2 separate regions of the Homo sapiens genome follow, and region 2 is linked to region 1. The links come from fine-mapping of genetic effects on gene expression. A gene starts in region 1. The other region holds a variant in brackets. All regions are shown on one strand. Distances are from middle to middle. Region 1 holds the start of NPAP1 (nuclear pore associated protein 1). Region 2 overlaps LOC105370732 (a long non-coding RNA gene).

The links.
Region 2: its variant is fine-mapped to the expression of NPAP1 in pancreas (GTEx, PIP above 0.99).

Annotation. Positions count from the first base shown.
Region 1 is chr15:24,668,939-24,684,642 of GRCh38, reverse strand. It overlaps NPAP1 (nuclear pore associated protein 1), which reads right to left and starts at 8,868. Exons shown (of 1, transcript NM_018958.3): 1 at 1,250-8,868. The coding sequence starts at 8,775. The coding sequence ends at 5,305.
Region 2 is chr15:24,170,994-24,186,697 of GRCh38, reverse strand. All of the region lies in intron 2 of LOC105370732 (a long non-coding RNA gene), which reads left to right. It also overlaps a transcript of LOC105370733 not described here. Among named protein-coding and RNA genes, the nearest start is that of PWRN2, 8.9 kb to the right of the region's middle. The variant G/A (reference allele first, on the strand shown) is at 9,242.

The DNA of each region.
Region 1 (15,704 bases):
TTGACAATGTAATTACCTGCATAGCAGACATATGCTAGGAAGTCTCAGAGACTCTCCCTGCAGGAATGCTTCATTCCCAAGAGAATGTGCTCCTCTCAACACTGTCATGTTCCCATTAGGGCCCTCCACATTGCATGCCCTAAATAAATCCTGTTCTGCCTGTTGGAGTCCTGATTTATTCCTGTCTTCTCCTTGCTTTTGTATCCTGAGGAATCTCATTTTCACTAGCCAGTTAAAAAGTTGACCTAGTTTGCTTTTGGAACCACTTACTTCAATGCACCACCCAACTGACCCTTCTTTCTTCGCCCATAAAGTTTCATTTGTCCTCCATCCTATGAAACCTACTTCCAAGAAAGTCTCTGATATCAGTCATTCACAGCTTAGTATGCATTTAAAGCAAAGGTACTATTTACCTAAGACAGATAATTTTTTTAGCAGAGATTTTGTTTGGCTTCTTTTTTTCTAGTCCCTCCCATGCCCCATTTCATGCATTGGATAAATCCAGGATCTAGATCATGGCTGTAAAACTTAGCAAATATTTGATTTTATGAGCCTCAATTTTCCTATCTGGAAGGCACATCTGATGATGATATTCCTGTCCTGGGACTTCTGAGAGAGCCATTCCCAGCTCTGCCTCAGGTAAAGAATGAATTGCTGTTTGGGAAGCCCTCATTGCATCACATAACCCTGGGATCACAGCAGTGACTGGTTAAGGGGGCCCTGGACAGTGTTCTCACAGTTGGGGGCAGTTTCTAGACCTCTAACATGAAGATATTTAGAGCAAGAAAGACATGCATCCATGAGTTGGAAATTCTCAAATTTTCCGCAGGCCATTTTCTAGTTCATGAGACACAGATGTAAGGAAAACACTCTGCTTATTACTAATTAGGGCTTTGGAACCACATCCTATACAAATTTTTTTATCTTATGAGATGAATGAGGACTTTGGTGAGCTCTCATGTAAGGTGTGAAGCAGTGTTTGGAATAATAGGAAACATGGACTGTCTGCATCATACCTCCCTAGAGTGCTGCCTGGAATCCAGATTCCTGGCTCTACCATAGATTCAGGAAATTAGGATGATGCAGCCAGAATTAGACATTTTTTAAAAATTATTGATTAGTGAGCATTTCTGGGCTAAACTAAAAGCAGTTTGGGTGGCTCCTTTAGGCCTCTTTCTTCTGAGACCATGTCCTTATGTTTGAAATGCTTGTTCCTCGGTGTCGTAAAGAAATAGCACTTGAACATAAATTTATTTAGTAAGGCCATTTTTACTTCCTGCAGAAAGGGTACACTTGCCAGCAGTTTTGCCACAAGAGTACACCGAACAAAGGAGACAGGGTCATTTATAACCTGACGCGTCCACCCTACTGCTGTGTCCGGTTTCCATTGGCTGGAACAGGACCTCACATTCTGTATTTGTCCCGATTGGCTAGCAATTTAGAACTTTTAAAAGAGGCAAAGGTAGAGGAGAACAAAGGAATGAGGAAGTAACTTGTGGAATGCTGAGAAAGGTAAAAACACTTCTAAATAAGGAAGAGGAACAGGCTATGACCTAATGCTTGGACCAGTATAAGCATGCCAGGGCAAATACTTAGGCTAAATTGTGGGAGCTAAGAACATAAAGTACATTGATTTCTTTATTATGACTAGCAGATATTTAAGAATGTTAGTACAGGTCTGTGAATACATTTTGCTTCTAAAAGAAGTTACTACTTATTTCTAATTAGATAGGGAGGAAAGTCTTTGAAGAGGAACCTCTACTTTACTTTTTACATTTACTTTGGTCTTACCACTCCCAAACCAGTGGAGGAGGCTCAAGGTTTCTGGAAAAGGAAGGGATTCAGTCAAGTAAACAATACTATTTGAAAATTCTAGAAACCAAAAACATTTTTTTTTTATGGGAAAAGAGTTCAAGGAGAAAAAAAGGAAGGCACTTCAAGTTTTAGGAAAAACAATGACATCTGTAAGATAACATAATAGTTGAAGTAAAAAAGCAAACTCAGAACTATGGGAGTGACATCAAAGTAGCTAAACACTATCTCTGGAGGAGGGAACTGTGGTAGGAAGGTTGACTTTCAGTATTATTTAAATTGATATTATGTTTGCTTTTTATCTTAATAAAAAATAAAAGAATATTTAGAAATAGTTTCAGTTGTGTAAGTGCATCAAAACATGAAAACAAAAATTATCTTTGTATCTCTCACACATTTATTCAAAGTTTGTCTTACCAGGATCATAATATTTAGCTTGAAGCCTTTTAAAAAATGTCAAGAAGTATGAATTTTAAAAAATTTGTCCCTGGTAATACTGCAAGGGTATAGGGCTATTAGAAGAAAACTGGATTTCCACTCTACTTCTGAAAGGCAGTTCTGATTACAAAAGTTAGGTGATTATCTGGCCAGGAAACAGGAGCTTTGATCCTCTGGAACTGTACTAAACAATTTAGAGCGAATGAATCAGGCCCCAGGGTGCCAAGAGGAATTCAGTAATTTCTCTGTGATTGTTTTCTTTCAGGCCTAATCTCATAAATGTTTTAGTCTCTGTTATCATATTTTTACATGTGTTTGCTTCATAAAAGTAAGTGCTTTTATGCTAATAAAAAGGGGTTCTTCCGAGAGGTGGAGCGTGCAGTGAGCCAAGATCACGCCACTGCACTCCAGCCTGGGTGACAGAGCAAGACTCCATCTCAAAAAAAAAAGGGGGTTCTTCTATTCTTCTATTTGAATTGCCTAATAAAGGCAATCAGGGCACCATTGCCTAAGGAACTCAGTCATTGACCATACATATATATGTATATTATCTATCTATCTATCTATCTATCTATCATCTATCTCTATCATCTATCTATGTATCTATCTATCATCTATCTATCTTTATTAGTCAGTTCTGATTGCTACAAAAAATGCCACAGACTGGTAGCTTAAACAACATTCAATTATTTTCTACAATTCTAAAGGTTAGGAAGTCCAAGATAAAGACAAATTCTGTTTCTTGTGAGGACTCTTTTCCTGGCTTACAGACTGTTACCTTGTTGGTATACCTTCACATGGCAATTAGAGAAAGCACTGGTATTTCTTCTCATAAAGGCGCAAATCCCATCATGGGGGTTTCATTTTCATGACTTCATCTAAACCTAATCACCTCCCCAAAGCCTCACCTCCTAATACCATCACACTGGAAGTTAGGCTTCAAAATATCAATTTTTGGGGGTACACAAACATTCAGTCCATAACGTTATCATCTATCTATCTATCTATCTATCATCTAATCTATCCATCCGTCTATCCATCCCTATGTATATAACAAATTACAACAAAAGCTTATAAGTCATTTCTCCATATTATTTCATTTTATCCTTTCAAAAATCTTATGAGATAAACAGGCCATAGTAAAAGTACTGATTTCATTGAGACTTTTGAAGTTTGAGTCAACTGTTATTACACAATTAGTAAAAAGTGGAGGAAGGAATTCCACTCACATCTCTCCTCTGTCCTCTTCTCTATCCCTCCCTCCCACTTGCTGACTCCATTCCAGCCACATTTCCTTACTAACTGCTCCATGAGGACACCAGGGATCCTTCCTTTGAGCCTCTGCAATGACCACTCCTATTATCTGGAAAGGTCTTTGCTCATATATCTGGCTCAACTGCTTCTCTCTAGGCTTCGTTTAAATTTACCTTCCCAGTGAGGCTTGTTCACAGTGTAAACTGAAACACCTGCTTCTATCTACAATCTCAATCCTCCATGTACTTCTTTATTTTTCATAGCATTCGTTACTGGCTAATTTACCAGATAATTTCCATGTTTTTGCTTCTTTTCTCCCCTTCAACTAGAATATAGGGTCCACAAAGTCGGGAATTTTGCCTTTCTGTCCATGACTAGAGAGAACTGGCCCAGAGGTAGGGTCAGCCAAGTTAACAGTCAAGCCAGGTTTCCTCTACCCTCCACAGTGCAGAAGACCACTAAAATACAGTGCGGTTCTGACTGGGCTCATCTGCTCCACACTCACCAATAAACACACACACACACACACAAACACACACACTCTCTCTCTCTCTGTCTGTGGTTTTGGGCCTCCAGCTTCTGTAGGAAGAGAGCAGGTTAAGTTTAACCTTGAGGGAACTGAGCCCATTCCTCCTGGAACAATGTCAATTTATGAGAACTGTATGTGCAGGGAGAGTGCTTATTTCTTAAGACCATTGATAGGAGTAAAAAATGAGTTGGTGGCTCCTATGAAGGCCTTGGCAGGTACAAGTGTCACTAGTGGCTGCTTTCCATCACAGGCACAGGTGCTCTGACCAGGACCATCCAAACACAAGTATTTAACTAACAATGCTGGCTCCTCTAGGCTGGGCATGGTGGCTCACACCTGTCATCCTAGCACTTTGGGAGGCCGAGGTGGGTGGATCACCTGAGGTCAGGAGTTTGAGACCAGCCTGGCCAATAAGGTGGAACTCTGTCTCTGCTAAAATTATAAAAAATAGCCAGGTGTGGTGGCATATGCCTGTAGTCCCAGCTACTCAGGAGGCTAAGACAGGAGAATTGCTTGAACCCAGGAGGTGGAGGTTGCAGTGAGCCGAGATTGTGCTACTACACTCCAGCCTGGGCTAAGGCTCCGTCTCAAAAACAAACAAACAAACAAACAAACAAACAAACAAACCAAAACAAAAACAATGCTGGTTCCTCTAAAGTCAAAAGGAGCACCTTGGTTGGGCAGGTCCATAGTATTTTTACTGAAAGGGAGACTAGAGGTTTCTCCCTACAAATATCTGGGGCTATCTCCTATTGCACCACCTGCATTTAGCCAGGTGGGCCTCAGGTGCTTTGTGTAAATGGGGGACCAAAAGTACAACCAGTCACAGCCGTTGTGTTGCTGTCCCTCATTGCATGGTTTGTGCTTTGTCCAGGTGGGCCCCAGGTGCTTTGCTGATACATGGGCACATGAGGGCCTTCTATCAAATGAATGTTGACACTCCTGGAAGAGGTACCATCTGTGTTTTGTCCAGGTGGGCCCTAGGTACTTTGTTGGTAGGTGGATACACAAGGGCCTCTAATTAAAGATATGTTGCCATTCACTGCAGATGCACCACCTGTGTTTTGTCCAGGTGGGACCCATGTGTACTGACAGAGAAAGGGAGCACAGGGATGTTGTTGTCCCCTCCTGGTGCACAACCTGAGTTCTGGAGAGGTACATGGCAGGTGCTTGGCATGAAGATGAAACTAGAAGCATGACCATACAAAAGGATAATGCTGGTATTTACAACCACAACTGATGTGGTGTGATCAGGTGAACCACAGGTGCTCTTACGGAAGTTGGAAACAGACATGTCTCCTAACATATGTTTCTTGTCCATAGTAGTGGGTGCTTGAAGTGTAGAATTTTCTCTCTGTCCATGTGTGCTGCAGGATGCACTGTTGAAAAGCAGGAACACAAGGGCCTCCAACTATGGATCTGGTGCCATCCCCTCCCATACCACTGCATGAATTCTGGGTAGGTGGGTCTAAACCAGGAATGTAGGCGGCAGCAGAAGTATATCCAAATACAGGAATGTTGCTAGCCCCTTGTGGTGCAGCAGCCATGCTGTGGCCAGTTGGGTCCCAGGCTGCCTGACCAAATGGGAAAACAGAAGTGGTGCTGGGTGTCCCACTCTGTCCTTGTCCAATGTTGAGTTCTCCTGATGTGGAACTGGGGCCTGGGGCAGACATGCTGAACCCAATGCTCCCACCATCCATAGGGGTTCCAGGTCCCATAATCACTTGTGGGCCTGGAATAGTATTTCCAACCAGTAAGGTACTGTCTCCAGTGCCAGGCATCCCAGTGGCAATTCTAAATCCAGAAGTCTTTGCTGTGCCATTGGGGAAAGCACTTGCATTGTGACCCTCGACTGGCTCAGCATTAACAGGTGTGCCCAATGCAGTATATGGTGATGTTAACTCTGCAAAACCTGGTGGAATTATGCTGCCACTCAGTGGCTGGACTGAAGGAGATGTTAAGCCTATAACTGGTGCTGGGGTTGCTGGATTCCCCAGAATAAAAGAACTGTCAGACTTCTGCTGCCCATCAGTGGCCCCAAGTGTGGAATGAGAGATGGATCCTGTATTTAAAGGATGGCTGGAAGTTGTGGTTGGTCTCCTATCTGCCTGTGCAGGAAAACTGGTGGAGACTTGGGCTGAGGCAATGCTGTCACTGTGTAGTGTGTTCCCAGAACCAGGAAGCCCCATATAAAATCGGATGTACTCCTCCTTCCTGGAGACAAAGGTAGACTGCAAGATGACAGTTTTGGAAGGAGGGGTGGTATTCATGTCACTGGTGTCAATGGCAGGCTTGGATAACGATGCTGCAGAGGCACTGCTCACTAAAGTGGAGGTGTCTGGAGGAACCATGATAGGAAGGCTCAGGAAATCATGGGCACTGGGGAGAGAGGTTTTCTGCTGCGGCCCATCAGGGGCCCCAAATTTGGGTTGAGGGGTGGCTCCTGGATTTAAAGGATGGTTGGAAGCTGTAGCTGGTGCCCTGACTGACTGTGCAGGCAAACTGGTGGAGCCTTGGACTGAGGCAGTGTTGCCGCTGGGTTGTGTGTTCCCAGAACCAGGAAGCCCCAGGTAAAATGGGAGGTACTTCTTGGAGACAGAGGCAGACTGCAAGATGACAGCCTTGGAAGGAGGAGTGGTATGCATAGCATTGGTTTCAATGGGAGGTTTGGATGATGATGCTGTAGAGGCACTGTTCACTAAAGTGGAGGTGTCTGGAGGAGGAATGATGGGAAGGCTCAGGAAAACACAGGCACTGGGGAGAGAAGCTTTCTGCGGCTGCCCATCAGGAGCCTCAAATTTGGGCTGAGGGGTGGCTTCTTTTCCAAAGAGTTGGTTAAAACTTGGGGTGGTATTGTGGAATATAAATGGAAGTGGGGATGTGTAGACTGATGTCTTTCCCGGGTGCCTCTGCTCTGCACTGCAATGTATTTGGGAATTTGGGAGAGAGCTCACTCTGGAGCTTAGGGAAGATGTGAAAATAACAACCTGAGATGGGGCAGTAGTATCCATATTAACTACTTCAGGGTCTACCGCAGTCTGTGAGGTTAGGTGGGCAGATGCGTTTGTTGTGACAGTGGAAATGACTGACGTGGAATTCATAGGCTTGCTGGTGATAACTGAGGTCCCGGTGGAAGGGACTGGAAGAAGAGTCAGGAAGGAAAGAGGAGGAGGGGAATCCACACACATAGATATTGGGGACTCCCTTGTGACGGGAGGCTTGAAGGAGGGTGTGGAGCTAGGAGGTGTTGGGGGGTCAGAAGTGAGAGGCGCTGCTCCTACGACTGAATTATAAGAGCCTCCTTTCTCATTAGACTGATCACCCAAAATGGGAACAAGGTCAGCAGGAAGAGCCAGAGGAGAGTTAGGGATTGTGAATGCTATTTTCTCATCCATTTTTGGTGTGGTGGAAAGTGGAGGGATAGGCAGGATGAGGGGTCCAGTAGCCAGGTCAGCCAAGTCAGGGATGGGCAAAGGAGCTGAGACCTGGGAAGTGTAAGTGGTCAGGGGCAGGGAGTCTGTGGTCTGCACAGGTTGGGAGAAAGAAGGGGCAGGCTGGGTGATGCTGCTGTTTGTCATGGTCTCTGTTTTATCCTCCAAGATTCTGCTATTCCTTTTATACTCAGGGCTCTTCTCCAAGGTGTGTAGGTCTCCCTCAACAGACAGGCAGGGGAGCTTAGCAGGTGGGGGAAGCTCACCTCGATCCCACAGCAATGGCAGTGAAGGGGGCAGCGGCAGCAGCAATGGAATCGACATTTTCCTTTTGCAGGGCCTGTTGCGGGCAGCTCTGGGAGGAGCAGCGCTCCTTGGAGGAATACAGAAAGGCTTCTCATCAGGCATCCTCTTTCCGGACATCAGCGGAATCGGCAAGCCTAGGGAGCTGGGCGGTGGCTCTTCATTCAGCACTTCCGCAGCCAACTTCTGCTGCAGCAGGGAGCAGCCAACGGCTGGCTCAGGGGGCGCTGTTGCATCCGGATCAGGCTTTCCAAGATGCCGGGCACATCCGGCCTGGCTGTGTGTGCTGGGCATGGCAGGGCCTTCCAAGCAGGAGCTCGCTGGAGACGCCTGGGCCTTCTCACTCATGCTGTTTTCTGAGAACTTGTGGTAGACATTTCCCTCCAGAGGCCCAGGGCTGCATCTGAAGGAGGCCACGTCTCCCTGGGTGCCCTGGGACCTGGATGTGGACGATGCTTCTCCGCTGCTAAGGGGGGTCCTTTTCTCGTCATCCTCCCCTTCGATCTGCACCGGATCCTCATCCTTCTTCACTCTTCTGGGCCCTTCTTGGGCCCACACCTCGGTCTCCTCCAGGAGAGTGGCTGGGATGGGCTTCCTGGCCTTGACCGCCGGCTCACGTGGTGAAGGCAGCAGGAGAGTGAACATGCGGCTGGGAGGAGGGATCCTTACGGAACTGGGGTGTCCAAACCTCGGGGGGTTCCGAGCAGGCAGCATGGGTGTCTTCCTGATGGCCAGCCCCCAACCCACAGCCGGCAGGACCCCCAGAGGGGCGGCCGCAGCCCGAGGGAGAGGACACGGCCTCTTAGGGGCGACGAAGATGCTGGCTGCTGAAGGCCTGCGACGGGCGTTCCGGCGGAACAGGCCGCGGAAAGGGCGCGGGGTGGGTACAGAGTGAGCCCGACCGGGCGGGGAGGCGTCCCGGGACAGGGGAGCGGGGGCGCCACGCCCTGGCCCTGGCAGGGGCCGGCGGCGGCACCCGGGTCTAAATTTACTAAGTAAATTGCCCATTTAGAGCTAGCCGTGCCTCCTACCGTAAAACAGGGTCAGCAGTGGACTCAACTCTCCTCAGCCACCGCCTCCTCTGGCGACCAAGCACAAACTGACTGGCTCTACGCCTGCGACGCCGCCGCGAGGTTCCTCACAGAACCAGGGAGCGCCAGCGGGGGCGCAAAAGGCAGGGGTCAGAGGGCAAAGGGCGACGCCCCGTCGGCCCCAGCTGCCCCAGGACCCCCGGAAGCCCCGCTGCCGGTGGCAGGTGTTGCACCGCGTGGCCTCTATGAGGGAACTGCTGGGGCCTGCGGGCCCATCGCCAGAGCTCTTGTCACCTGGGCGCCGGCTCTGCCTGTTCCTTAGCCCTGGCCCGGCGCTGTTGCACGCAGTGGCCCTGTGTCGGCCGTCCCCATTCCCCGGTTCACAGAGGGCACATCTGCTTCAAGTTAAGCACAGGACAACCTATATCCTGCCAGCCTCCTCTAGGACCTTGGCAGTGCTCTGTGCTGCCTGGAGCCAGGTGTGCCGTCTCTGTGGCGCCAGGGTCACCAGCCAGGCCGTGAGGGTTTCCGAGGAGGGGACGTGGTGCCTTGTCCTGACTAGATGCTACGCCCTACCACATCTCTTCCTGGCAGGCAGGGCCTCTTCACTTCTTTTCACAAATTTGTTTTAAACAACATTTAAGGCTGGGCGCGGTGGCTCACGCCTTTAATCCCAGCACTTTGGGAGGCCAAGGCGGGTGGATCACCTGAGGTCAGGAGTTCGAGACCAGCCTGACCACCATGGTGAAACCCCATCTCTACTAAAAATACAAAAATTAACTGAGCGTGGTGGCACGCACTTGTAATCCCAGCTACTAGGGAGGCTGAGGCAGGAGAATCGCTTGAAAGCGGGAGGTGGAGGTTGCAGTGAGCTGAGATCACCTCACTGCACTCCAGCCTGGGGGAACAGAGCAAAACTCTTGTCTCAAACAAAAACAAAAACAAAAAACCACAACAAACAACAGCAACAACATTTAAGCCTTAGGCTGCTTGCTCCTTGGGTCATTGATATGACAGTGGCCTAGCCAGGCTTCGAACCTGGGCTGTGTGATTCCAGAGCTGGTGCCGTGGCCTGTGTGCCTCCTTGTTATGGACACATCATGTATTCTCATTATTTCCTGTAGTCCTTAGGGTACCTAGCACACAGCACATCTGTATTAAGCACATGCGTTCCTAGGGGGAAGCCCTTACTTCACCTCATAAGTTGGTCATGGCAGGCACTGGGCTCCAGTCTCCTCTGAAGACATGGGGCAGCGACCCCCAATAGTCAGCAAAGCAGCATCCCACACTGTTCTTCTAATTGAGCCTTGCAGCCCAGATTTCCTTTTTGGTCTAGTTTGAAGGATCTAAATATGTAAAGATTATAGTCCAGATCCATTTTGGCCTATCCCGAAAGAAATTCACCAGTGGATTAATCCAAATGGATAAGCCAGTTCTCTGGCCTTCTTGGAATATGTTAGAAAGCAAATTCATCATGTATTTGCAAGTCAGTAGTGGAGCAATGTATTCGATTAAAATATGATCAATACAATTTGGTCATTGTCCGCATGCCAGCAAGGCCCACTCTTTACCACACATTACTGTCACCTAAGTATAACTATCCATATTCTTATGCCCAAGGAAGGAGACTTAATATTGGTTTTTAGGACAAAGGAAATATGTGTTACTGTTTTAAGAGCTGGAAGTTTCAGCATGACAAGAAAGATTTGGAAAATCCTACACATGACCTTATCTAGTTTTAATCTTGTTTCTTTGGTTTATTTAACTGGACTGCTTTGCTCTCTTTGGGCTAATGTTGTGTGCCAGACATAGGACATGTGGAAGGTTCAGAACCAAGAATCAGAGATCAGTAAAAATATTTTAATGTATTTTTTAGTTTAAAAATCGATTTAAAATAACATCAAACCTAGTTAACATACTACAAAATCCTTTTTATCCCCCTGTTCATATATTTTATACTATGTCAGAGTAAATGTGGGCTTCCATACCCAACAAAGCTTATGTTTCTAGGACACAAAGTTTTGCTCAGACCCAAATTCTGTTTAAAAAGAGGAGACATATTATAAGTCCTTCCTAACCTCTCAGGGAACCGAGAAATTGTTTACAATTATGGCATTTAACTGTAATCTCTTGATATCATTTGAGGAGAGTTTAATAAAAAATAATCTCTTGATTTTATTTGTTTAAACAAAAAGAACAATCTGGTACAAGTTTTGGACAAAGATTTCCTACAAGAACTCTGAAACAAAATCAAATGTCAGGCTTATTTGAAAACAATAAATTACAGCATTTTCCCCCAAACAGGAAAAATGCATTAAACAAATAATGAATATTGGGGCTTCAGGACAATAAAAGGAAATTTGGACAAGGGTATTCCAGAAAAATCCACCTCTTTATTTTTCTTGTCAAATGGGAATAGATGCTTTTTTTGAATATAAAATCTTCCTTGTGTTTGTGAGGCAAAATAACATTAGATGGCAACTGATTATTCTGAGATCTTTTGACTTGGCAGACGCAAACATGTTGAGATGAAATTTGTCAAGGCAAAATATTTTCCAAAAATTTAATTTAATAATTATATAAATACTGTGATAATAGCAACAATTTATAGTTGCCAGGTGAGATTACTTGTAATTTAATAATTTTTTAAAGCACCAATCTCCAGTCATATCAAATGAATCTCTGGGTGGCTAGCTTTGTATAGAATTGTGGTAGTGACAATAAACCATACCTAGCACCCTATAGTTGAACACTTTCACCAACAACCCACTGTAAGTCATACAGAGTTAATGTGAGGACACACTGAATCCTTTGGACTTTATTGACTCATGAACCTCATTAAATGAACTTTTTTCCCTAAAATAATTTCAGTCTCCTCTCTCGTGAAGAAAAGTTATCTGAAAAAGGAATGTGGAGGAAAGAGACTTTATTCCAGTGAACTGTTTGCATCCTCTGTTGCAAAACAAAGGTGCATTCCAGAAAACAAAGGGAAGACTTGGGTTTTATAGCAAAAGTTCGCTGTCCAGGTTCCCACATAAGTTTCTTTAGGCAAATGAAGGTTTGAAACTGGCTTAGTTCTGGCCCACTGTGGTGGCTCACATCTGTAATCCCAGCAGTTTGGGAAGCCCAGGTGAATGGATCACTTGAGATCAGGAGTTTGAGACCAGCCGGGGCAACACAGTGAAACCCTGTCTCTACTAAAACTACAAAAATAAATAAATAAATAAATAAATTGGCTGGGTGTGGTGGTGCACACCTGTAATCCCAGCTACTTCACTGGGTGAGGCGGCAGAGGTTGCAGTGAGCCAAGATCATGCCAATGCACTCCAGCCTGGGTGACAGAGTGAGACTCTGTCTCAAAAAAAAAAAAAAAAAAAAAAAAAAAGAAAAAGAGAAAGAAAGACATTGGCTTAGTTCCAATTGGCCAGTGCAGGTATAAACTCTAGTCAGCAAATGGCTGCTGGGCTGTATTTTAAATTTACGCCCAGTTAGCCACACAGGATTGATTTAGAAGAATTGGCTCTTTCAGATTCACATTTGTCCACACTCTTCCGCCCTTTACTGTAACCAGGGCTCAGCAAGGACAGACAGACTTTGTGCTGCTACTTCTTAGAGTAGCCTTTCCTTGGTTGTTTCATCTATTTCCTCTCCAGTTAACTTTTTGCTTTTCAGAAATGTATCAACACCTTTCTGTGGTTGATGACTTCCACAATCTCTTGGCTTTCGTTGGTCTACTACATTTTGGTATTTGTATACTTTTATTTAAGTACAATTTCAGGAGGAACACAAAGTAAATATGTGTTCCTGGTCTGTCACCTTGAACTGAAAGTTCCTGTTCATTCTAGAAGCCAACCTTCCCATAGGAGAAAACTACCCTTAGTATTAACAGATGTAGCATTCAAGACTTTAATTTTTCTTGAGGAATCAATCACTAAGGATTTAGGATATGGTAATTTCTGTATGGGGAAATAGTACCTATCCCATGGAGTTGATTGGAAGATTAAATTACATAATCGATATAGAAATGCTTTGTAAAATTTTAATTTCTGTGAAAATGCTTTTTTGTTGCTATATAAATTTTATGATTTTTTTTATGTAAGACCGTGTTTTTTGGTTAACTGTTTTGAAAACCAAACTGCATTTTTCATTAGCTCAATGGAAATGAATGGCATTGTTTTTGAGGGTGGGGATGAAGCCATAGATATTTCTCGATATCTATTACTTCACAATATTTTCAGCAACTAATTTACTCATGTATTCCTCTTTCCAATTTTATTGAGGACCTACTTCCTCAAGAAAAGTCAGATGCTTTATTTCAGGTTTTGGCAAACATTTTCTAGGTTTTAAATATTTAAGTCTTTGTGGGCCAAATGCAGTTTCTTTAGCTCCTCTTCCTCCTCCTCTTTTACCTCCTCCCTTTTATTCTTCAGGAACACTTTTAAAATGTAATCATCATTATTCGCTCACAGGACATACAAAATGATCTGTGGGTCATTTTTGGCTAACCCCTGATCTATGTCTTTACTGAGTAGAAGGCACATCTTTGAGTAAATCGCTTGTTTGAATCAACCAATCTTTTTTTTTTTTTTTCTTTTTTGAGATGGAGTCTTGCTCTGTCATCCAGGCTAGAGTGCAGTGGCGCGATCTCGGCTTACTGCAACCTTCGCCTCCTGGATTCGATTCTCCTGCCTCAGCCTCCTGAGTAGCTGGGATTACAGGCACCTGCCACCATGCCCAGCTAATTTTTGTATTTTTAGTAGAGATGGGGCTTCACCATCTTGGCCAGGCTGGTTCCAACTCCTGACCTCAATGATCCACCCACCTTGGGCTCCCAAAGTGCTGGGATTACAGGTGTGAGCCAACGTGCCCAGCCTGGTCTCCCCAATCTTGTCCTTAATTTCCTACAGTCTCTAATCAAAATGATCTCCAAGAGAGATCCTGTTGAAACGTAAGTCAGATAATATCACCCAAGCCTCTTCAATGGCTTACTCAAAGCAAAAGCCAAAGTACTCAAAATGCTTCCAAAACCCTAGCAATCTGAGCTCTCCATTTCCTTTCTGACTTCATTTCCTTCTTTCCACTCTGATCCCTCTTTCCCCTACACAGTGACATCATCCTTTCTGTTACCTGAATACTATATGAACACTTTTGCCCATGGCTGTCCCATCTGACTGTTTTCTTTACCATTTCTTTTCTAACACTCATTTTCCAGACATACACATCATTGTTTCCTAGGATCCCATTATGTTTCTTCTTAAATTTCACCTTCCACATAATTTCACATTGCAACCCCCACACCAACTGACACTCTTCAACTCCCTTCCCTGCATTATATTTCTTTCTAGGACATATCTGATATACTGTTTATTTTACCTATTTATTTAAATTTAATTTACATGTGTACACTTATGTTTATGTATTTGCATATTCATTTGTTTACTCCCCCCCACCCAAATAGAAGGTAGGAATATTTACTTTTTCTTTTTCGCTAATATTCCTTGAATATACCTGTAAACCAGTACCTGACATTTAGTAGGGTATCAATAATTTTCTTGAATGAATTAAGGTGTGGGTTGATTAGTGAATTAATCCCTAGGGTTTCTGAATTGAAGATTTGTGTGAAGAGGAAGGCAGCATGGCTGGGACAGGGTACTGTGAGAAGCAGTATTTGGAGTTCTCTGATGTGTATCTTAATATATAGATTTTTGTTCATTTAAATAATTTTAACAGGGTAGTTGGGAACTAGTTTAGGGAGACACATCACAAAATTTTTGTAGTGGATTATGTAGGGTTCTTTTAAAGTATGTGTAAGTATTAAAATATATGCATGTGTATACACCTCTATTAATTTATTGAACGCTTTACAAGAGCCCTTTGAAGTAGCAAGTATCAGTATTCTTCATTTACAGATGAGCTTAACTTGCTCAAGGTTGTATCATAATTTAGTTATAAATGTAAAACTAAACTTTGAGTTTTTGAGCAGATCCTCCCTAGAAAGCTGTGACTTATTAATAAGATTCTGGTAACCCACAGAGATTTATTCAGCTTCCAACAATGTACAAACTACAGACTCAGTTATGGGTCATTCATTTTAATAAAGGGAAAAAGATTTATCCAGCACAAAACATAGAGAATATTAAATGTTATTCTCTATTAAGATAAGTAATGGGAATAGTAGGCTCCAGTCTTTCTAAAATAGCTGGAGACCATCATATCTGCATTATGGCCATGGGGATGTTCAGCCAGGCTGCCTTTCTCTGTCACTCAGAAGAATTCTGATATTATATAATTATACTTATTGAAACAGATAAGGGACATTGGGCAATTAAGATTTCTTCAGCTTGATTTTTCCAGAAGGCTTGCCTGTAAAATGAAGATAGTTGGTCTGAACACATTCAGGTATGTAGAGGTTGTTAGGATCTTACTTTTGGCAGTGAATAAAGTGAGCTTATTTTATCTCTGCAGCCTCCCATATACCTATGTCCAGCCTCTGTTTTGTGTTTGGAAATAACCAAGTATAAATTAAAAATCAAGGTAACTAAAACAAATTATTTATTGATGTATATAAGCATGCAGAACTAAATGTGATCTAGTTTAAATATTTATTTAGTGTTGTATGTTTGGGAGGAGCCTTCAAGGTATCAGAAAATGAAATTTAACTATCCTGTTGTAAACTACAGTACACACACACATTGAATTACCAGTTCTGCTCACCTATAGAATCATCTTCAGGTGCTACACATTCCTATGTACCTGGTATGTATCATTTAGCTTTCACAATTTTTCAATTACTTCTTAATACTCAGTATTCCAATTTCAATCTTGCCAGGACCTGCACCAGTTATGTAGAAGACAAGAATTTTATTTTCTGTTTATTTATCTGTGTTCAGAACCCAATGAAAGAAC
Region 2 (15,704 bases), 500 kb after region 1:
CCAGACCAGCCTCTATACAACAGTTGATTTAGGATACTGTGCAAAATCATATCTTCCATGCAGTGAAAGTTTGTCTAGGGACTCAGTGCTCAGCACTTTGTCATCTGTGCCTGTGACATCATGCTATTCAAGATTTATGGAAGTCAATGGGAGTTGACATACGTAGTTCCATATATGTAGTTCCATGGCTTTGTAGGCCTTTTAGGCATGGTTCCTGAAAACAACTCTGCTGCTACTAAGAAGGGTGCAATGGCCTCTTAATAGGAAGCTGTGTGGAGAATTAGTGGGCAGCCAGTACACATGCAGAAACAAACACAGCCTGTTTCTGTCTCTCAGATCACTGCATGGAGGGTTGGAGATATGCTGTATATTGTTTTCTTTTTTTGTTTGTTTTTCACCTAATGAGATTTCTCTTTTTGTGCACAACATGTATATATCACTCAGTAGCATTCACCTGCAAAAACCCTGTTGTAAAGATTTATTCCCAGGCCTCTGGAAGCAGGGACTGCCCTAAAGCAACTTATTAGAAATATTTTTTGTACTCTGTTTACCTGCTATCTTGATGGCTTTAGGGTTGGCCAAGGGCAATATAATTCCACCATGTGAGTATCAACAGAGTGCATGGTCCTGAACAGTTCCTGATGGAGCCTGTAGAATGAAGCAAAGTAAATTAGAACAGGTTTTCTGAAAGGTTTGAAAGTAAAGTTGTCTTTGGATTACTTGAAGAAGAAATCCCTGTACCAAGAAAACGTGATCCTGAATGCAGAAATATGATTTATGTTCCCTGACACTGAAATTTCTTATTCTTGCCTTATATCATCTGGAATTCATGTCTTCCGAAAAGGTTAGTGGGATCTTGAATATACTCTGCTAAATGCTGTCCTAAAATGGGGCTTTCTGGGATATGTGAAAAACAGGCATCTTCCTTTCAAGAAGTGGATGCTGACACTCTAATGACTAGGTAGTGGGGAAGGAGAAAGAGGATAAGAGTCCTTGGAGCTTGAAGGTACCTTCCTGAAGCAGTGGCTCCTGGGTTTCAAATGTTGCCTAGAAAAGAAAAGCTAGTTTACTGTTCTCTCCCTACATGCCCACTTGTATTTGGAGGCAAAAGTTTTTTGCTGATGTCTTTACTTGCTTACTTTTTAAAAAAAAACAAAATAATAATATTAAAAAAATATTTATTTTGAAATAACTGCAGATTTACATAAATGCACATAGGTAAGTACAGACAGTTTCATATACCATTCAGATAACTAGAATGTTAGTATCTATTATAACCATAGCATATTCATGAAAACTAAGAATTTAACTGTTTTTCAAGACTATTAACTGATCTACAAACTTCCTTCATATTTTACCAGGTTTTCTAATAATGATATACTTATCTATTCCAGGACCTAATCCAGAATACCACCTTACAATTACTGTCAGGTATATTACTTACTACTTGGTGCATAACAAATTACCACATACCTTAGTGGCTCAAAACCACACACATACTACTCACAGTTTCTCTGGGTCTTCGGTCTAGATGTAGGTGATGGCTCAGGCTGAGGCTCAGCTGGGGAAGGGTCTCCTTCCAAACTCACATGATTGTTCTTAGGATTCACCTCCCTGCCCTCATCAGGAACTCATTGATGTGTTATTAAAATCACATAAAATTAATACTAATTTATCAAAAATATTTCAAAACAATACAATAATAATAAAGAAGTAGAAAATAGATCACTTCCCATTGTATACTATGAATTAGTTTACCCTGATTGAACAACTACACAAAGACATTTCAAATAAGGAAAATGAAGACCAATATGCCTTATAAATACAGAGACAAAAATCACCAGCGAGATATTATCAAATGAAATCAGCAACATGTAGAAAGTATTATACACTATGGTAAAGGGTATTTACCTCAGGAATGCAAATTTGGTTCAATATAGGATACAACTAAAGTCATACACTATATTAATAAAGAATAAAAACTACACAATCATCTCAGAAGGTATGCAACAAGCACTTGAAAATTCCCAGATTCCATATTATAAAAACATGCAGCAAATTAGGCAGATAAGAGAACTTTCTGCATTTCAAAGGGCATCTATGAAAAGCTCACATATCATCATAAGTAATCTGAAAGGTTCACTAATTTCTCTGATATTAGAAACAAGTCAAATATTTCCACTGTTGACACTAGTTTGCAACATTGTACTGGAGAATGTAGACAGGGCAATTGGCTTAGAAAAATAAATATAATGTTTCTAATATGGAAAGGAAGTCAAACTCTGACTGTTTGCAAATGACATGATCGTATGTACAAAACGTCCAAAGAATTCTAATCAAATATGTTTAGAATTTAAAGACGAGTTCAAAGAAATTTGCAGTATATAAAATATATAAAATATTTTAAATTTCTCTATACTAGCAATTAACAATCTAAAAACAAAACTCAGAAAACCGTTCCAATTGAGATCGAATCAAAAATACTTAGGAATAAGCTTATCAAATTAAGTATAAGATATGTACACTAAAAACTATATAACACATATTGAACAAAATTAATAGAAAATCTTTGAATGCTCATTGTTTACAAGGGTTAATATTGTTAGGTTGGCAATATTTTCCAAATGGATCTATAGAATTAATGCAACTTCTCTCAAAACATTCCCCTAAATTCAGAAGGTTATCCTCAAATTTATATATAATATAGATCCTGAGCAGCCAAAATACTCTTGAGAAAGACAAAAAGGGTTTGCATAGTAGACATATGCTTCCTGATTTCAAAACTTACTACAAAGTAATAGTAATCAAGATTTGTGGTACTAGTGTAGGGATATATGTATTGATCAATGGAGTAGAATATAATACTCAAAAATGAATCCTTACATTTATGGTGAAATGCTTTTATATTGTGGCCAAATAAATTAGTTATGAAGCAATATTTTCTTGTCAAATGTTTCTGGGTCAAGTGGATATCCACATGCAAGTTAGATTCTTGCCTCATACCAGAAACATAATTGACTCAAAATGACAATCTATCTAAATATAAGAGCTAAACAGAGCCAACCCATAAAAAGAAACACAGGAATACATCTTTGTGGTCTTTGGTTAAACAATGTTTTAAGATATGACACTGAAAAACACAAAGGAAAGAAGAAAATATAGAAATATTAAACTTCATTAGAATTAAAACCTTTTGCAATTTAAAGTCCACCATCAAATATAAAGAGGCACCCAAAGAATGGCAGAAAATATGTGAAAATTGCAAATTTTATAGGTGATAATGGTCTATTATCCAGAATATGCAATGTCTTACAACTCAAAATTTAAAAGGCAAATATCCCAATCAAAAATGGCAAAATCTTAAATAGCCAATTCTCAAAAGAAAGCCATAGTCATATCCAAAATCACATGAAAATATGCTCAATGTCTTTTGTCATTATGAGGTAGGAGACTGGAAGGATTTGTTTTCTGGTTTCACAACCTTGATGACCAAAATAAGATCTGCTCCAGACAGGATAAAGTGAAAAAACTGGCAGAAGCCTGTACGTTGCGGTAAATGTGATCCCTGGCAGTCTTCATTTGTCACTCACATAAGACACTCCTACCAACCACATAAGTGTTTACAAATTCCATGGCCACAACTCAGAAGTTACTGCCCTTTCCATGGAGACAACCTAGAAGTCACTGCCCCTGTCCTGCCTCAATTTGCCTTGACTTGCCCCTCAATTTGCATATAATTAAAAGTGGGTTTGATTGCATATAAATACAGTTGCCAAGAGGCCTATATGTTGCCAACTCTGAACACACTGCTTAAGAGTTAGCCCTGCTCTGCTAGGAGCAGTACCATTCAATAAAATATTGCAGTCTAACATCACCCACTAGCCCTTAAATTCTTTCTTGGACAAAGCTAATAACCCTCTCAGGATAAGCCAAAATTCTGTGACTCACCTGTCCTACAAAAATTGGGTGAAGGCAAATCTAAAAACCATGAGGTGTACTTCAAAAATCTAAAAAGCATATTGCTAAAAAATATAAGTTGGAAAAGGTAAAATACTGTGAAAAGGCAAACTTGTTACCTACTAAATAAGCTTTTAAATTTGCATAATTTAGCTACACTCTTTGTGTTACAAAGTTCTTCAGGATTTGGAAAACATTATGATGTATCCACCATTACAGTATCAAAGAGGAATTTCACTGCCCCAAAGAAATCTTCGGTAGTTCACTGATGTCACCTATATCTCTCCCAAGCCCCTTGTTACCACTGAACTCTTTACTATCACTACACTTTTTCCTTTTCTAGAGAGTCATATAAATGGAATTACACAGTATTTTGACTGTTTCAACTTCTATTTTTCTACATAGCCATATACCTTGTTCAGGTAGCATGATTAAATTAACAACATCAACTTGCTTGCAGGGAGTGCTAGATCACATACAAATGAGAATGAGTGGATCCATTTATATGGTCCTGGATTAGGTCATATGGTGTTGGAAACATTAGCAGAAAGTATAAAATTACCAAATTACCCTGAAGCAGAATTAAATTCACAGACTGGAGCATATAATAGTGACTGAACAAAAGAAAATGCCAAACAACAACAAAACCAACCAACCACACAACATCAAACTTTAATTATGCAGGTATTTCAAAGTGATAGAAGGGACAACTTAAAAACCTTCCAATAGCCAACACTGGAACAATTTGTGCAATTAAAAAAAAAATAGCAGCCGAGCATGGTGGCTCATGCCTGTAATCCCAGCACTTTGGGAGGCCGAGGAGGGTGGATCATCTGAGGTATGGAGTTTGAGACCAACCTGGCCAACATGGTGAAACTCAGTCTCTACTAAAAATACAAAACTTAGCCAGGTGTAGTGTCTCATGCCTGTAATCCCAGCCACTCAGGAGATTGAGGCACGAGAATCGCTTGAACCCAGGGGGCAGAGGTTGCAATGAGCTGAGATCGCACCATTGCACTCCAGCCTTGGCAACACAGAAAGGCTCTGTCTCAAAAAAAAAAATAGCACATATGCATTGTAAAATAAATCTCCATATTTAGATAATGATATAAATAAAAGATGCATGTTTAAGTGAATAAATTAATACACATGAAATAATTGGAAGAGAATAGGCACATGTTTACGGTGAAGGTTTAAAGGAATTTGTAGACATTCTGCCAATAATGACTGTCTACCCTTGTTGACAGTTTTTACTCTTGGTATGATATGATGAGAATGGCACTTTTTGGCCAGGCACAGTGGCTCACGCCTGTAATCCCAGACCAGCCTGGACACCACATTAAGACCCCATCTCTATAACAAAATAAATATCACTTGAGCCCATGAGTTTGACCCCGGCCTGGGCAACATGGTGAAACCTTGCCTCTACCAAAAAAAATAACAAACAACAACAACAATAAATTAGTCCAGCCTGGTGGCACATACCTGTAGTCTCAGCTACCCTGGAGGTTGAGAGGGAAGGATCCTTAAGCTCAGAAGATGGAGGCTGTAGTGAGCCAAGCTCATGACACTGCACTCCAGGCTAGGCGAGAGAGTGAGACACTGTCTCAAAATTAAATAAATAAATAAAAATGACACTTTTCCTCGTGATCTTCCTCCCCTAAACCCACAAATCCAGTCTTATCATTAGAGAAACATCAGACAAATCCCACATTAGTAATATTAATGGCATCAAAAATAAGGAAACTCTGAGAAACTGTGACAGTCAGAGAATTCTAAGGAGACATGACATGTACCTGTGATGAGGTATCCTGGATGAAATCCTGGAATAGAAACAGGACATTAAGTCAAAACTAAAAAAAAATGAATAAAGTATGAAGAGTAGTTATAGTGTTATAAAACTGATTGCTTGTGACAAATGTCCTACATTAATGTAAGAATTTCATAAAAATGGAAACTTCGTAGGATATGTGGAAATTCTATGTACTACAACTGTTCTGTAAACCTAAAACTATTCTTAAATTTATAAGGTTTCTTTATCTTTAAAGTCACTGTTGACCTTATAAAACAACATGAGCAATATGTTTGATGGCCCATAGTGCATCTCCTGAGCTTCACCATCTTCCTTAATCACTGAAAATAGCTATTACTGTGAATTATTTGTTATCCTCTAATTTGTGTTTATTACATTTACCTCTATGTTTATATTTCTAATATCTATAATGTTTATTTTTCTTGTCTTCAAACACACATGCATGGTTTTAATGTATTTATGTCCCAGTTTAATCATGAGAAATCATGAGACAAATTCATATTGTGGGAAAACCTACATAATATCTGACCTGTGTTTTCAAAAAAGTCAAGTTCACAAAAAATAAGTGAAGACTGAGAAATCTGCAGATTAGAGAATACTTGATGTGTCAGGTAGACCCTACGATGGTGCCCAGTGAACCTCACCTGTAAGAAATACACCGCTTACATTATCTCATGTGCTCTGTTGAGTGGCCTCCTCTGTGTCTCACATGACCAACACACCTGAACTTAACATTTTTCCAATTCAGAGTTTTCCTAGAAAGTGGTTGTCTTGATATGAATGTAGTGGTCACAGTTCTGCAAAGTGCCATAAGGGCATCTGACAGTATTTAAAAGTTTACAGTAATCCAACCCCAATGCCCATCAATCAATGAGTGGATAAGGAAACTGCGGTATATATATATATATAATGGACTACTATTCAACCATAAAAAGGAATGAGTTAATGGCTTTTGCAGCAACCTGGATGAGATTAGAGATTATTATTCTAAGTGAAGTAACTCAGGAATAGAACACCAAACATCGTAGGATCTCACTCATAAGTGGGAACTAAGTTATGATGCAAAGGCCTAAGAATGATACAATGGACTCTGGGAACTCAGGAGAAAAGGGTGGGAAGGGGGTGAGGGATCAAAAACTACAAATAGGGTGCAGTGTATATTGCTCGGGTGATGGGTGCACCAAAATCTCACAAATCACCACTAAAGAACTTACTCATGTAACCCAAACCACCTGTTCCCGAATAACGTATGGAAATTAAAAAAAATTACAGTAAGAAGGATGCCTGGTAAAGGACTGGACAATTAGGCATTGTGTCATCTGCAAGGATAAATAAGTATCCTATGAAAGGTGCACTGTCAACATCCAGGACCAATTTCCTGGAGTCCTGTTGGACATCGTTATAATTTGAAGCCATTGTCCCAAGAGAGACCTCAAGAGAATATCAGATACTACAAAAATACAACATAGATGTATAGGTAATTTTACAAATCATGGCTCGAAGATCCCATGGAGAAGGAAGATAGAAATGGTAAAGTGTTACTTGAAAGTTTACAGAGTTGCAGAGTGCAGCTCTCTCAAGACAGAAATACTCATCTTGAGACTGTTTGCCTTAATCTCAGAAATATAGGCAGAGACTATTCGAAGTTGCTTTCCAAATCCAGTTCTTCATTTCGATCAACTACCTATCTTTTTCTCCTCTCCTTTTATTCTTCCTATGTCATAAACGATGGTCATGTGAATCTCACTGTAAGCAGTCGCTGCTGACGCAGGCACGTTACAGTCATCATGAAATGCTTTGCTCTGACCATTTGTCACTCTTGTCAACTCCACTTGTTGATACTTGGAAAATCAAACAGGCCTTGGTGTTCCCTGAAGACTGCACTGCATGAAGAAGAAACTCATATAATTTATAATTTAGAATGTTGAGCATATTTGCACTGAGAGTTTCAGCTTCTATGAGGGCTCAGTTCAGTGAACAGAAAGCCCTAATTTCAAATATAGGAGTCATGCACCTTTTAAGCTTTATTCTCCATTCAGGGTAGAGGGTGGAGAGGGGTTGGGTTCAGGCCTCATGATGTGGTCAGACAATGAGATGTTTTCAATAGCATCTTTCTGAGAATTCTGGTGGCCAATCCAGCCTCAGTACAACGTGGTCACAGGTGGTTTACTGTCTTGTGAGAAATCATAACTTCCATGCTATGGTGGTAGAGTTTCGGAGCTCGGTGCTCAGCACTGTGTTTGTTCTCTGTGCCAGGGACATCACGGTAGCACAGTTTTGTGTCTATCACATTTCCTATCTTAACCCTGGGCACTCAGAACTCATTGACCCTCTTGCTACCTAGAGATGAGTCTCTCCTTAGACAAATCTACTTCCATCTCCTTCATGGCCTGCCACTTGGTGATTTTGTTTTTCCTGAACAGTTTGGTCATGAATGATCTTCACAGTACACATCATAACAGACCATATGTATGCATAGAAATGAAGAGAAAAATGGGATTTGACAAGTCACTTACCTTATAGAAACTCCTCTTATAATGAAATGAAAAGAGCAAACTTCCATTTACTAAGATTGTCCTTTTTTTTTTTTTTTTGAGACACAGTATTGCTCTGTCCCCCAGGCTGCAGGGCAGTGGCATGATCTCGGCTCACTGCAAGCTCCGCCTCCTGGGTTCACACCGTTCTCCTGCCTCAGCCTCCCGAGTAGCTGGGACTACAGGCACCCGCCACCATGTCTGGCTAATTTTTTGTATTTTATTAGAGACAGGGTTTCACCGTGTTAGCCAGGATGGTCTCAATCTCCTGACCTCGAGATCCACCCGCCTCGGCCTCCCAAACTGCTGGGATTACAGGCGTGAACAACCACGCCCAGTTTAAGATTATCAATTTAAATGAGGCTCTCCTTCCTATGGGGTGAATTGTAAGCTCAGAGGGGTAAGCAGGTTTATTGAATTATAAATGTCCCAAATAGTAGCACCTGAATTATTGCTACAATCTTCTTGGAAGTAAGAAATGTGGTCAAGGTCAGCTGTATCTCTTACTCCACGTCTCCTGGGTGCAGGAATTTATTTTCTCACTGGAGCTATGAAGCTGGTATGGAGAATGTAGCCCATGATCACGGTCTGAAAAAGCAAAAAGAGTCCTAACTTCATGGATGTCCTTGGGAGTGCAGCACACAGTCCCATGGCTTAGTAAGCTTTGTGGACATCGTTCCTGGAACAACCCTGGTGCCCTCCCATAAAGTGGTGTGGCCTGTGAACGGGGAGCTGTGTGGGGGATGAGGGGACAATCCTCCCTGCTGTGGAGAACTTTGTTTAAGCAGCACAGATGCAGAGTCTGCACTGAGCCTGTGTCCATCTCTTAGATCACTGCATGGTGGGCTGGGCTATGTTGTACTGTGCTCTTCTTTCCTTTTTTCTATTAGGCTATTTCCACCTCTGCACAACACACTCTGTATCACTAACATGCCTC[G/A]CTTTCATATGCCTGGTGTCTGAAGGTTCATTTCAGGTCTCTGTAAGCAGGAATCAGCCTACAACCCCATGATTAGAAGCTTTTATTTTCATAGCTAGTGAACCTTCTACACTATGATATTGTCTGTGCTGCAGCTTTTGGGCCTCTCACTGGACAAAAGAAATCCATGATATTATAGCATCAGGGGACTGTGTGGTGCCATGAATTCATGATGGAGTCTGCATAATAAAAAGAACTTAATTATCATAGGGTATTCTCAAAGGCTTTAAAAACTTTAAAACTTGAACAAGAGAATCTCTGAACTAAGAAAACACTCCTAATGTAGAAATATTATTTATGTTCCCCATCACTGGTGTTTCTCAATCTTGTCTGGAAGTCATGTCTTTCAAAATGTCTTTAGTGAGATCCTACAAAGACACTACCACAAAGTGCCTGAAAATAGGGCCTTCTAACACATGTGGGGCAGGCACCTTTCTTTGAAAAAGTGGTTACTGATGTATGAACTGGTGACTGGGTAATGGAGCATATGATGGGAAAGAAGAAAATGGATGAGAGTCCCTGGAGCTTGATGAGGTGCCTGAAGCCTGAAGCAGGTGCCCTGTGTAGGAATGGGGATAATAAGGCAAGTACTTTGCCTTTCACTCCCTGCATCTCCACTCATCCTCTGGTCCAAGGTTTCTTGTTGTTTATGTCCATCTGTGTTGGTATTTTTTTTTGTTCCTAAATAATATATTTTAAGAATATTTTTATTTGAAAATAATTTTAGTTTTACAGAAAGTTTCAAAGATAATGCAGTTTTACATAATCTACAGCTTTCTGAAATGTTAACAACTCATGTAACCAGAATGTATTTATGAAAACTCAGAAATTGACAGTGGTACAAAACTATTACCTGAAATACAGTTAATAGTTTTGAAGCATTAACTGAAAGACAGACTTTCTTAATATTTTGCCAGGTTTTCCACTGATGTCATTTTCTCTTCTAGAATCTAATTACATTTACTCTCAGGTATATTACCTACAGGTCGCTGTATAACATATAACTGAACAGCTTAGATGTTCAAACCCACACGTAACTATTACTTAACCTTTTCTCTGGATCAGATGACCCAGGCTGAGGTTTCAAGCGAAGCATCCCCTGAGGAAGGATCCCTTTCCCAGCTCATGTTAGTGTTGGTAGGATTCAATTTTTTTCTAGGTTGTGATGACTTCACTGGTGAATTATTCTAACCCCTTTGAAAATTAATAACAATCTTTATTAACTAATCTTTCAAGAAAAAAAAATAAAAACAGAGGAGTAGAGAACACTTCCCAATATGCCGCATGAAGCCCGTTTTCCCTGATAGCACAACTGGACAAAGAGATTTCAAGAAAGGAAAATTACAGACAAATATGCCCCATGAAACAGAGGCAAAAATTCTGAAGGAAATACTATCAAAATAAACCAGTAACCTAATAAAAATAGACATTATGAGCAAAGTCATTTGTCCCTGAAATATGTTTTGTTAAACATACAAAAACTATTACTGTAATACGCTATATTGTCAGAGTGAAGGACAAAAGCTTCATAATTATCTCTAAAGATACAGAATAAGCAGTTGAAAAATCCAAAACACATTCATGATAACAATGCCGAGCAAATTAGGCATAAAAGGAAATTTTCTTAAGTGATAAAAGGCATCTATGAAAAACTCACACAACAACACACCATATTATGAATGTTTCAGTAATTTCTTCAAAAAATTAGCAACAGGACAAGGATGTATGCTCTTGCTACTTTTATTAAGTATTGTATTGGAACATGTAGCCAGGGTAATTAGGCAAGAAACATAAATATAAGACTTCTAGAATGAAAAGGATGAAGTTAAGCTTTCTCTATTCATAAATGACATAATCCTATGTATAGAAAATCCTAAGGAAATTACTAAAAGAAGATTAGAAACAAAAAATGAGTTCAGTAACACTTTAGTATACTAGAGTAATAAAAATCAATTGCATTTCTATATATTGTCAATTAATCTAAAATAAAACATAGAAAACAATTCCATTTAAAATATTGTGAAAAAGAAACAGACATTTGGGGGCAAAGGGGACCAACCTAAGAAATATAAAAATAAGGAGAGATTCTTAGTTTAAATGTCAAAGTATCTGTACATAAATTCTCTTCTTTAGTTAGAAACATTCTTTCCCATGGGTGTATGAATTACCAATTCTAAAACTACTCTGCATGTATTTTGGACTCATTGATTATATAAAGGAGGCCAACTATCTCACTGTTAGCGTGGGAGGTTACATACAAGTAGTGGGAATGGGGAAACTGATTTATGTAGTCTTGAATTAGATCATGGGTGCTGGAAACATTAATAAGAATTCATGCTGAACTTTACATAGGAATAAATGGAGAAATGTTGTAGAAATGCATATACATATGTGAGTGTGAATTACATACATACATATAATCCTTTGTTCTGTCAGATGACAAAACATAGAATTAACAGACGCCTGGCAGAAATGACAACACCATTGCCGAGACCTTTGTTTCTAATGCCATTCACCAAAAAAGGAACTAGGAATTTGGGGGAAAATGGTAAATGGCATGGCTGGGAAGGGAATCAACACTATTAAGCTTAAGTACCTTGTAGAGCCAGAAAGTAAGAAAAAGTTAAACAACACAACCAAACAACACACCACACAAACCAAATCAAATAGCAATAATATGGGTATTTCAAAGTGGTAAAGCAGCTGACTGAAAGGCCTTCTAATGACCAGCACTAGCACAATTTGAACAATACAATAAACTAGTCTAATCACAGGGGAAATAAATATTTTTTATTTGCCAATATTCCATATAATATAAATAATTGACTAAATAAATGCTGGAGAAGAGATACATTGCCTATGATAATGAAATACAAACGATACTATACAAGTTCTGCCCTAAGGAGGTGAAGAATAATTCCCCAATATTAAGTATGCGCTGTGCATAGTGACGTTTTTTTCAAAAAGTACGACGTGGATAGGGGGAAAATTAATTTTACAGTGGAGAAACTGGACACACACTGCCTCATCCAGGTGCTCAAATTAGTATCAATAGTGATAAAAGCATTTTGAGAATATATGCCCATGGTATAATGAGTATTACACTCACTCCTGTCTCTTCTTCTTCCACATCTACAAATTCAGTCTAATTGTTAGTAAAAACAATCATAGAAATCCTAAATGGAGGATGTCAATGCCACGAAAAACATGGAAATTCAGAGAAACTGCAGAGACAAAAAAAGCTTAAGGAGACATGATATCTAAAGGTGTTATCCTGGAAGAGATCCTAGAACAGAAAACAAACAGTAATTAGGAAGAAAAGAAATCTGATTAATATGTGGATATCAGTGAATGAGAATGCATAATGTTGGTGTGTTAATTGTGACAAATACCCATGCTCATATAAGAGGTTAATAATGATGGAAACTCTGTGTTGGTTGCATATTAACTCTCCATGCTGACTATGCAACTGTTATGTAAGTCCAAAGCTAACGTAAAATAGAAAAGCTTTTTTTCTTTCTTTAAAAATTCACTGCTGACCTTAACAAACTGAATATTATCAATATTGTTGATGCTCTAAATGTGCAGCTCCCCAATTTCATGGCATTTTTTACCCCCATGAAGGTTACTATTATTTTCAGTTTCCTATTTGTCATTTCCTTTTTGTATTATTTTTATGTCTATGTTTATATTTCTAAATAATATATTCAGTTTTTATTGTCTTCAAATTAAGATAAAGGTGTTCAAAATAAGTCTATAATTCTATTCAAATAATGAGAAATCATCAGATGAATCCACATTGTGATGCTTCCTATAAAATACCTCACCAGTTCTTTTCTTAGCAGCTGAGAGTCTTCAAGATAAACGAAGACTGGGAAACTGTTGCACATCAGACAGGACCTGATGTGGCTGGTAGACCTTAAGATGGTGCCCAATGATCCCCACCTGCCAGGGTGCATGACCTTGTATTGTAATCCTCTCCCTGTGAGTATGGGCATGAAATGTGACTTGCTTTCACACAACACAATAATACAAGAATATTAGATGTCACACGACTGATCATGTTACGTAAAGTTGTGATTTTTTTTTTTTTTTTTGGTCTTGCTAGCAAGCTCTTTGCCTTGATGGCTTTGATAGAGCATTCTGCCACATGGGAGAAGTCAACATGGGAAGAAACTGAATGCAGCCTCTAGTCAACAGCCAGCAAGGAACTGAAGCTGCCCTACAGTTTGCAATTTAAAATTCTGGCTAATCCAAGCCCCCTTTCAAGTAACAATATATCACTTAAGATGTGGTGTGAACACCTTACAGTAACAGAATAACCCACATTCTTTCCTTCTATCACCTATTGCAGTTATTCATCTCACTTACATAAGAATAAATGCACATAAATGTTTGTATGTATACATATACACACACAATGATATATATTTAACCATATCTAATCAAATATATTCAAACTAATGTTTTTAACAAGCTGTTATTTGTTAGATTAATTAAGCATAAAATTATTACCTAGACTAGTCACTAAAAAGGTAAAAAAATAGAGATATGCTAAGAAATGAGATGAACTGATATAAAGTGCTCAAAACAACAAAAGGTAGAAAATGAGTGAAATACAAAAATAAGAACAAAGACAAATCAACAACTGAAAAATGGTAACAAATTTGGTAGATTTTTAATCCAACTATATCAATAATCACTTTAAATGTCAATGTTCTAAATGCACTACTTAAAGGACAGAATGCATCAATAAAAGGAAGCATGGGATAGAAAGAATAAATTCATGTAACACGTTACAATCTGAGAAACAAGAGAACATCATGAGGTTTGCAGGAGAATATCAAAGAACATTTAAGAAGTCACACAGACAGGCCGGGCATGGTGGCCAACACCTGTAATCCCGGCACCATGGGAGGCCGAGGAGGGCGGATCGCTTGAGGTTAGGAGTTCGAGACGAACCTGGCCAACTTGGGGAAACCCCATCTCTACTAAAAATACAAAAATTAGCTGGGCATGGTGGCACCTGCCTGTAATCCTGGCTACTCAGGAGGCTGAGGCAGGAAAATCGCTTGAACTCAGGAGGCAAAGGTTTCAGTGAGCTGAGATGGAGTCACTGCACTCCAGCCTGGGCTACGAGAGCAAACCTCCATCCCCAAAATAAAATAAAATAATAAAATAAAATAAAGACTAAAACTACCAGACAGCTTACAGGTAGGGGATTTTAAAGACACAGAGGGGAGGGGTAATACACAGTCATAAATTAATATATTGAGGTTACACATTGGTTTTAGACTAAAAGGATGAAGTATCTTGAAGTGGAAGCTTACAGGTCATAGGGGGATTCAGAGATTTTCTGATGTGTGATTATTTAAGAAAGTAAAATTTGTCAGAAAATTTGGGATCAGCAGAAAGTAATGGTACTTTTGGCTCATAGACGTAACATTCCATAGGCCACTCAGGAAGAAATTGAGAATAAAGAATGGCAGAGTTCATTTCATAGATCCCCTTTATCTGAGGTCTATGTGCCAGTGGATCCATTTAGTAGAGGGGCAGCTTTCTGAACAACAACTCAGGGACATATGCTAAGCTTTGATTTTTAGTTTCCATAGGGAACCCCATATTCCCATGACTCTCCATTCCTTGCTACTGTTTTACCTTCTTGCTTGTCCAGTGGCTCGTGTACTTCTCAGAGGTAGAGAGGTGCCTGGAATTTCTGTGAAGGGACTCAAGATTTTCCTTTATTTCCATGCTTGGGGTGGTACACAGGCCCCTATGAGGGGTCCCTGCACCTTCTCAGGCCCTAAATGAATCCTCATCTGCTTGTGGGACTCCTGAATTTCATCTACCATGTTCTTGCTTTTGTACTGCTTGCCGCTTTCAGGTAGGAAAACTCCTGTTCAACCTTGGCAGACAAATCTCATCTTCACTGGCCAAGACATTTGGATGACTATTCGTATATGAATTATGTCAAGAGTGCCAAAGTTCAGTATAAAATAATGCACATCAGTTGATCCACTATTATTTAATAGAAAGGTGGGTAAATTATTGACTATGTCAATGAAAATGGAGATATAAATAGTTGCCAGCAGAAAAGTATTTTTAAAATGTTAAGCTAAATGAGAAAAAATAATAAAATATTTTAACACCTTTCCTAAAAGTGATTGTTACAGATATATTTGCTGAATAGAGCAAAATTATGTGTACATTTTCTAAGTGGCATTTTAAAAATTTGTCACTGAGACTATTTATTACTGCCTCAATTTCAGAGCCATTCTTGGTCTGTTCAGGGATTCAGTTCCTCTCTGGTTCAGTCTTGGGAGGGTGTATTTGTGCAGGAATTCTTCATTCTTTCTAGATTTTCTAATTTATGTCCATGGAGGTGTTCATAATATTCTCTGATGGTTGTTTATATTTCTGTGGG